Regions from separate parts of the Homo sapiens genome. Here region 1 is linked to region 2. Evidence: fine-mapped expression QTL. A gene starts in region 2. The other region holds a variant in brackets. All regions are shown on one strand. Distances are between the middles of the regions.

Region 1 (2,909 bases), 55 kb after region 2:
TTGATATTCTTTCACAAACAAAACGGCATATAAGGAAAACGAGTCTTATGCTGTAGGATGGAATGATCTTATAGCTATGGAATCTGGAAAGTTATTTAGAACAAGATGATAATAGGCTCTACCTAAGCTTATGAAAAGAATACTGAACTGTAAGCATCTGTTGCCATTTAAAGGCATTTGGTGTCAGTATCTTAAAAGATTAAGATGCTTTAAAACAAAAACCTTATAAGAATATCAAAGATTTAGGGAATTATCTTCATAAATAACCAAATGTCTATGGCTTCAACTGTCTGCCCTACTGCCGAGGTAGGTGACCAATATTCATCAAAATAAAACAATCTTTTACAAATTCCCTAAAAAAAACCTTGCATAATCAGTTGGTTTCTTAAACCTGTGTCCGTTTCTTTTGATGGTTTTTGTTTTGTTTTTCCTTTCAGTCATTTACACTTTTTAAAAGAGGCTGTCCACGCAAGTGTTTCTTTAAGCTCTTGCCGAATAGCACCTCATGTATTCTGTCATCCACGGGTTCTCTGAGGAGGAAGCCTTCATCTTTCTGTTCTTCTCCACATCCACAGAGTGAGCTCGCTGCCTTTGAGCAACCAGTTTCCTTTTTTCCACCTGTCTTCTGTTCTTGGCTCGTAATGCTGATTCATGAATCTAAAGAGAGTTCAAAATAAAGGATAGTAACTTAAGGGGCTATTATACTAATGTTCAACAGAGGTTGCAATGAAGCTGGCTACTGCCAGGTCAACTGCAGCAGGGCAGAGTCAAGCCCTGCCTCTCTATATAGTTCTTCTTTACATAAAACCTTCCACAGAAGAGCCATTCTCACTTGATGCTGTTCTCACTTGATTCATATCAGGGATAATGAAACTAAGCAACAGCAAATTAAATGTTAGACAGAAATGGTAAGCAACTAATTTGCATGTGCCTCTAGAGTTGGCTCTGGAAAACTGTCCGAACTGCTTAGCATTAAACATAAGTATTTAATTAACGACTTATAAACAGCTCATAAAAAGCAGGGAAAATAAAAGAACTTTAAATGTTTAACATCAGTATACCAAAGACATCTCGAGATTTTACCACCTAAGATGTCTTATACTACAGATAAATCCTGTTAAAATTAATCCCACGGACTTCTTAGAGATCTTTTGTTAAACGGCAGCTTTGTTGTCTCAAATATCACTCCAAATAACACCATTTGCTAGGGTTCAGATGTCTGTTCAGTGAAATTTTCATTATGCTGTTTATCTAGAACTCAAGCAGTTTGCAGTTTCACTTTCTGCTTCCTTAAACGCAGCCTTTGCTTTAGGCTATCATAACAGTATTAACGCTAACATACATGTTTTCTGACTACACACATGAAGGTCCTCTCATCTG[A/C]AATGTTTCCGGGTCTTGACACAGGAGAGACAAGCTAAGGCTAAGTCAGGGGAGGACTAAAGCTCCTGAGAGTAAAATGCATTTGTTATGGATGAACAGGGGAAATGCAGCCATTTGAATTTAATCAGAGGAACAAAAGGGAGTCTCTGGCAGATGCCAAGCAATCAATCAATCAGACAAACCAAAGATAAAGAAGCGCCAGGTTATCGAAGCTGAAGGAAGCTGAAACAGCTCAAGAGACCAGTGGCAAATCCAGATGGGCCGTCGCCAGCCTTGGCTGTGCTGCTCCTCCTAACCTTCCGGCCCCCCAGGAACTTGTGAACCCCAACTCCATCTACATCTTTGCCTGGCTTGGTGTCACTAAACTCTTCTGGGTAACTCCAAGCCAAAACCCCTCGCTCTGCAGGCCACCAACATGCAGAATCCTCCTTTGGTTCATCAGAGGCTCCATTCTGGAGTTCCCCAACCCACCATGCTATCCCCTAAGATCTCCCATGGGCCCAAAGCACCCAGTGGCCAAAGGACACGATGCCCGATGACAGGCGCATGGCCCAGCTGGCCACTCTCAAAGGGAACACAGAACCACAAGGGCCCAGAGCGCACCTCGTGCACAGGAGCGGACGCACAGACGTTGTGAGTCTTCTGGCTTCCTGTATCGGTCTGTTTTTCTCCCCAGCCATAAAGAGCAAATGGATGCTTGTTTTCTTTTATTTTACTCGATGATCTTTGGGGACTTTTGACCGCTTTCCTGTTTCCTCTAGCAAATAAGGCACTTGGTTGCTGTCGAGGCTCAGTACTGGTGGGTGATTTGTCAGTCTCTCTTGTTCTGGTTTGTTGTTCAGGTTTATCTTCTACATCTTTCACTGGCAGTGCTTTTGAAAAGAGATAAATGAGATGAAAATACTTTGAAATCAGATTTATATATAATTAAAATATTTATGTTGAAAAATCATAATGCTTAAGACAGTAACATTTTCACTTATGGCTCAACTCATACGATCCACTTAAAGTAGAAATACAGGAACAAGTTAGCATAATTTTCAAACCATTTATCTCATTTTAAAATCAACAACAAATATACCAAGATTGAACCAAGCTTATTCAAAAGCAACCACTGCTACTCCGATTCTGAGACTTAGCATCTGGAATGTTAAAAGATAGACAGCACCACACCCTAAGGGCTTTCTCCGCAATCCCCCAAGATAAATCCAATCATCTCAATTTTGCTTTCCTTCACGGAAAGATCTGGATTTGTGGTCATCCTCCAGCAGCTGCAGGAGGTTGCTGTTTGAGTTACTCCACCCGAAAATGCTCCTTAGTCCTTCCGTGCTCCTCCTGAGAGCCGCTTCCTTCATTCAAAAGCCCCTCCGCACAACAGGGAGTGATTTCCATCGTTACCGCCTAGGTGCGCAGCCAGGCATTCCCTGTGGGAAGAGTTAAAAATGAGGGCCCCGGCCGGGTGCGGTGGCTCACACCTGTAATCCCAGCACTTTGGGAGGCCGAGGCGAGCGGATCACGAGGTCAGGAGA
Region 2 (2,909 bases):
AGGATGGAGCCAAACTGACTCACACACACACACACAAAAGTATGTACTGGCATTTTCCACACAGTCCAGGTCACTTGGGAGCTTAGCCAAGGATATTTTGAGCATTCGACTACCTATTGTGAACAAGGTTGGGAACTATGAGGCGCTATGTGGCCCTGATCAAGCTCAGATGGGCCAAATCCTCAACCAAAATTCTCTTTCCCATAAATGTTTATCTCTACATTTCCCACAGAAGGGGATTCTAACTCAGTTTTGCTTCTGAAACCAAACTATCCAAGGCCAGGTGAGATGACTCATGCCTGTAATCCCAGCAATTTGGGAGGCCAAGGAGGGAGGATGCTTGAACTCAGGAGTTCAAGACCAGCCTGGGCAACATAACAAGACCCCATCTCTACAAAAAATTTAAAAATTGGCGCGGTGTGGTCGTGTGAGCCCCTAGCCCCAGCTACTCAGGAGGCTGAGGCAGGAGAATCGGTTGGGCTGGGCTGACAGTGCCAGACCCTGTTAAAAAATAAAAATTAAAAAAACTCCTAAATTTGGAAACACATCCCCAGCTGAGGGCCGGGAGATACTTCTCAACCGTAATCCAGAACCCTCTAAAATGGGATGTGGAGAGGCTGCAGCCTGTAGTCTTGCGATGACCTTTTAGCACCTGGGCATCTTGCGCTTCTGTCATTCCGCCCACACCCGCTCAGCTCCATCCAAGAGGGCCCGGCAGTTTGGAGTGAAAGCTTAGCTTCCCAACGGGTAAATGAACCTGCCTCCCATTCACAGGGCGGCCTCTGGCTGGACACCTGGGGCCTACTGCCTCCTTGTTACACATTAACCAAGTTCTGGCCTCCATCGTAACAGCGTCAGGGAAGTTTTTTCCTGGCTGACAGCCGCAGATGATGACCGAAGACAACGTCTTAACTGAGACGGGCCAATTTGGCAAATGGACTGCTTTCCTCCCCAGTGCGGGCACCTTCCTCCTCTGTCCGGCAACTGGACCCCACTGTCCCCAGCCCTCTGTCACCCCCAAACCTGCCCACCGCCCGCCTCTACCCGACCCTCCCTCAGGGAAATCGGGACTCAGCCCCCAACGCCCCCACCTGCCGCTCTGCCCACCTCAGCGCACACCGCCAGAGCGCCCAGCCCGCGCACGTGCTTCCGGCGCGCGCCGAAGTCCTCACGCGCCCCGCCCCGGCCTCCCCGTGCGCACGCGCGAACGCGGGGTGGGCCGGGCCTCGCGTAGCCCATCTCCTCTTCCTCCTCGCGGTCGCGGCCGGACGGAGGGTGGAGGGCCCTGCGCCTGCGCGGAGCTGGAGTCCGGCTGGGCCGCAGCCGCTGGGAGACCGGCGGTTGCCGTGGGGACCGGTCGGGCCCCTCCCTCCTCCGGTCCCCCGCCCCAGGTCCTTCCCCACCGAGACGCGCCGGCGGACCGCGGGCGAGTGCAGCCGGTGACCCGGCGAGAGGCGGCGCCGCTCCCAAGATGTCGCAGACGGCCATGTCCGAAACCTACGGTACGAGGCCCGGGCTGGCGGGGCGCGCGGGTCGGGCCGCGGGGGGCGTCGGTGGCGCGGGGCCGGGCCTGGGCTGCGGGGGTCTTGAGGGTGGCGGTGGCGCCGGCCGGAGCCGGGGGACGGATCTCGGAGGTGTCTGGGCTTGGGACCGGGATGGGGGACGCGGGCCGCTGGGGGCTCGGGTGGGGTAGCGGGTGCGCGGGGCGCGGGGGCGCTGTGCACAGCGCATTGGCGTGATCCGCCTTTTCAAGTTTCCTCTTGCTCTTTCTCTGCTCTTGCACTCTTAGCGCTTTTCCCCTCTCAGTCTAATGTAAATAACTGAAGGTTTGAAAAGCCAGCTTGATGTTCGGTTTCAGCTGCGATATTATCCCCAGCGAGCCTGTGAAGGGCTTAGGGCGACGCCTGTGTTCCTCAAATACTTCAGTTTGACCTTTCCTGGTTTGGAATTCCTTGCTTTACATTGGGATTACAGTGAGGAGTTATTAATAGGCTAATTCATTCATCTCTTCCTCCGGAGACCTCTTGCTTCGTTTATTTCTCCCTCCCTCTCAGTGTTTTTTAGCCTTTTCTGGGTTGCATTTTGGCTATTTATAAACATGTCTTGTCTCCTTCTTAAGACCGTAAGCACCTTGGAAGCAAAGCCCTGGCTGTTTAATCTTTGTTTCCCCTGCAGCACCCAGACCTGGAGGTGCTTGACAAATACTGTTTTGAATAAGCGAAAGCTTTCCCAGTGCATATGCTGTGTGCTTTTTTTTTTTTCTCCCCTTTTTTGGCCTTGCGTGGTAAGAATAAACAACTTGTACTTTGTATCAGAGTTGAATATTAATAGATGTTTACCAGTCCCTAATCACTCTTTCAGATGTATGTATTCTCAGATTAAGACTTTGATTTGGAGTTTTACAGTCCCAGAGAGAGGCTCAAGTTCAAAATTACATACCTCAAGCCAAATTAGTCCTGTCTCCATCTGTCCTGGCATGCTGCTTCCTTCTCTGCAACAAATACTGTGGAATGGCATTAGGGAAGCGAGCACCGTGCTGGGAGGGCTGTACATCCTGCAGAAACACAGCAGACACGGCTCTGGTCTCATGGAGCGTAGTCTATTGAGGGAATGCAGTATTAATCCAATTGTGATACTAATGAGTGAATAATTAAAAACCAGGCAAGAGTTCTGAAGGAGTGTGGTCCGTGAAAGTGTGTTAGAAAGAAAGATGACCCAGACAGGGGTGTCAGGGAGGCATTAACCAGGCAGCACGCAGAACATCTCAGGCCTGTGGGAAGGGTAACTCAAGAAGGGTGTGTTTTGAGTACCACGCTGGAGAGGTGGATGAGGAGGCAGAGAGGAGAGGGTCTTGAGGAAGGCGTCAGTTTGTCTTGTAAGAAAAAATGGGAACTTTTGGAAGGGCTTCC

Which allele goes with the higher level. Positions count from the first base shown, and alleles are read on the strand shown. Sizes are in standard deviations (SD) of each study's normalised expression.
In carriers of allele C in region 1, the expression in skeletal muscle of the gene that starts at base 1,286 in region 2 tends to be higher than with A alone (small effect, 0.31 SD a copy in GTEx).

The links. PIP is the estimated chance that this variant, and not a neighbour inherited with it, causes the effect.
Region 1: its variant is the best candidate, but not a certain one, in a credible set for the expression of RAB4A-AS1 in skeletal muscle (GTEx, PIP 0.80).

The regions. Positions count from the first base shown.
Region 1 is chr1:229,324,755-229,327,663 of GRCh38, forward strand. It overlaps CCSAP (centriole, cilia and spindle associated protein), which reads right to left. Exons shown (of 4, transcript NM_145257.5): 3 at 1,984-2,252; 4 at 1-657. The coding sequence ends at 481. Among named protein-coding and RNA genes, the nearest start is that of CCSAP, 17 kb to the right of the region's middle. The variant A/C (reference allele first, on the strand shown) is at 1,381.
Region 2 is chr1:229,269,869-229,272,777 of GRCh38, forward strand. RAB4A-AS1 (RAB4A antisense RNA 1) reads right to left here and starts at 1,286. Exons shown (of 2, transcript NR_149313.1): 1 at 1,108-1,286. It overlaps RAB4A (RAB4A, member RAS oncogene family), which reads left to right and starts at 1,243. Exons shown (of 8, transcript NM_004578.4): 1 at 1,243-1,502. The coding sequence starts at 1,472. RefSeq lists silencers at 1,055-1,584, 1,625-1,784.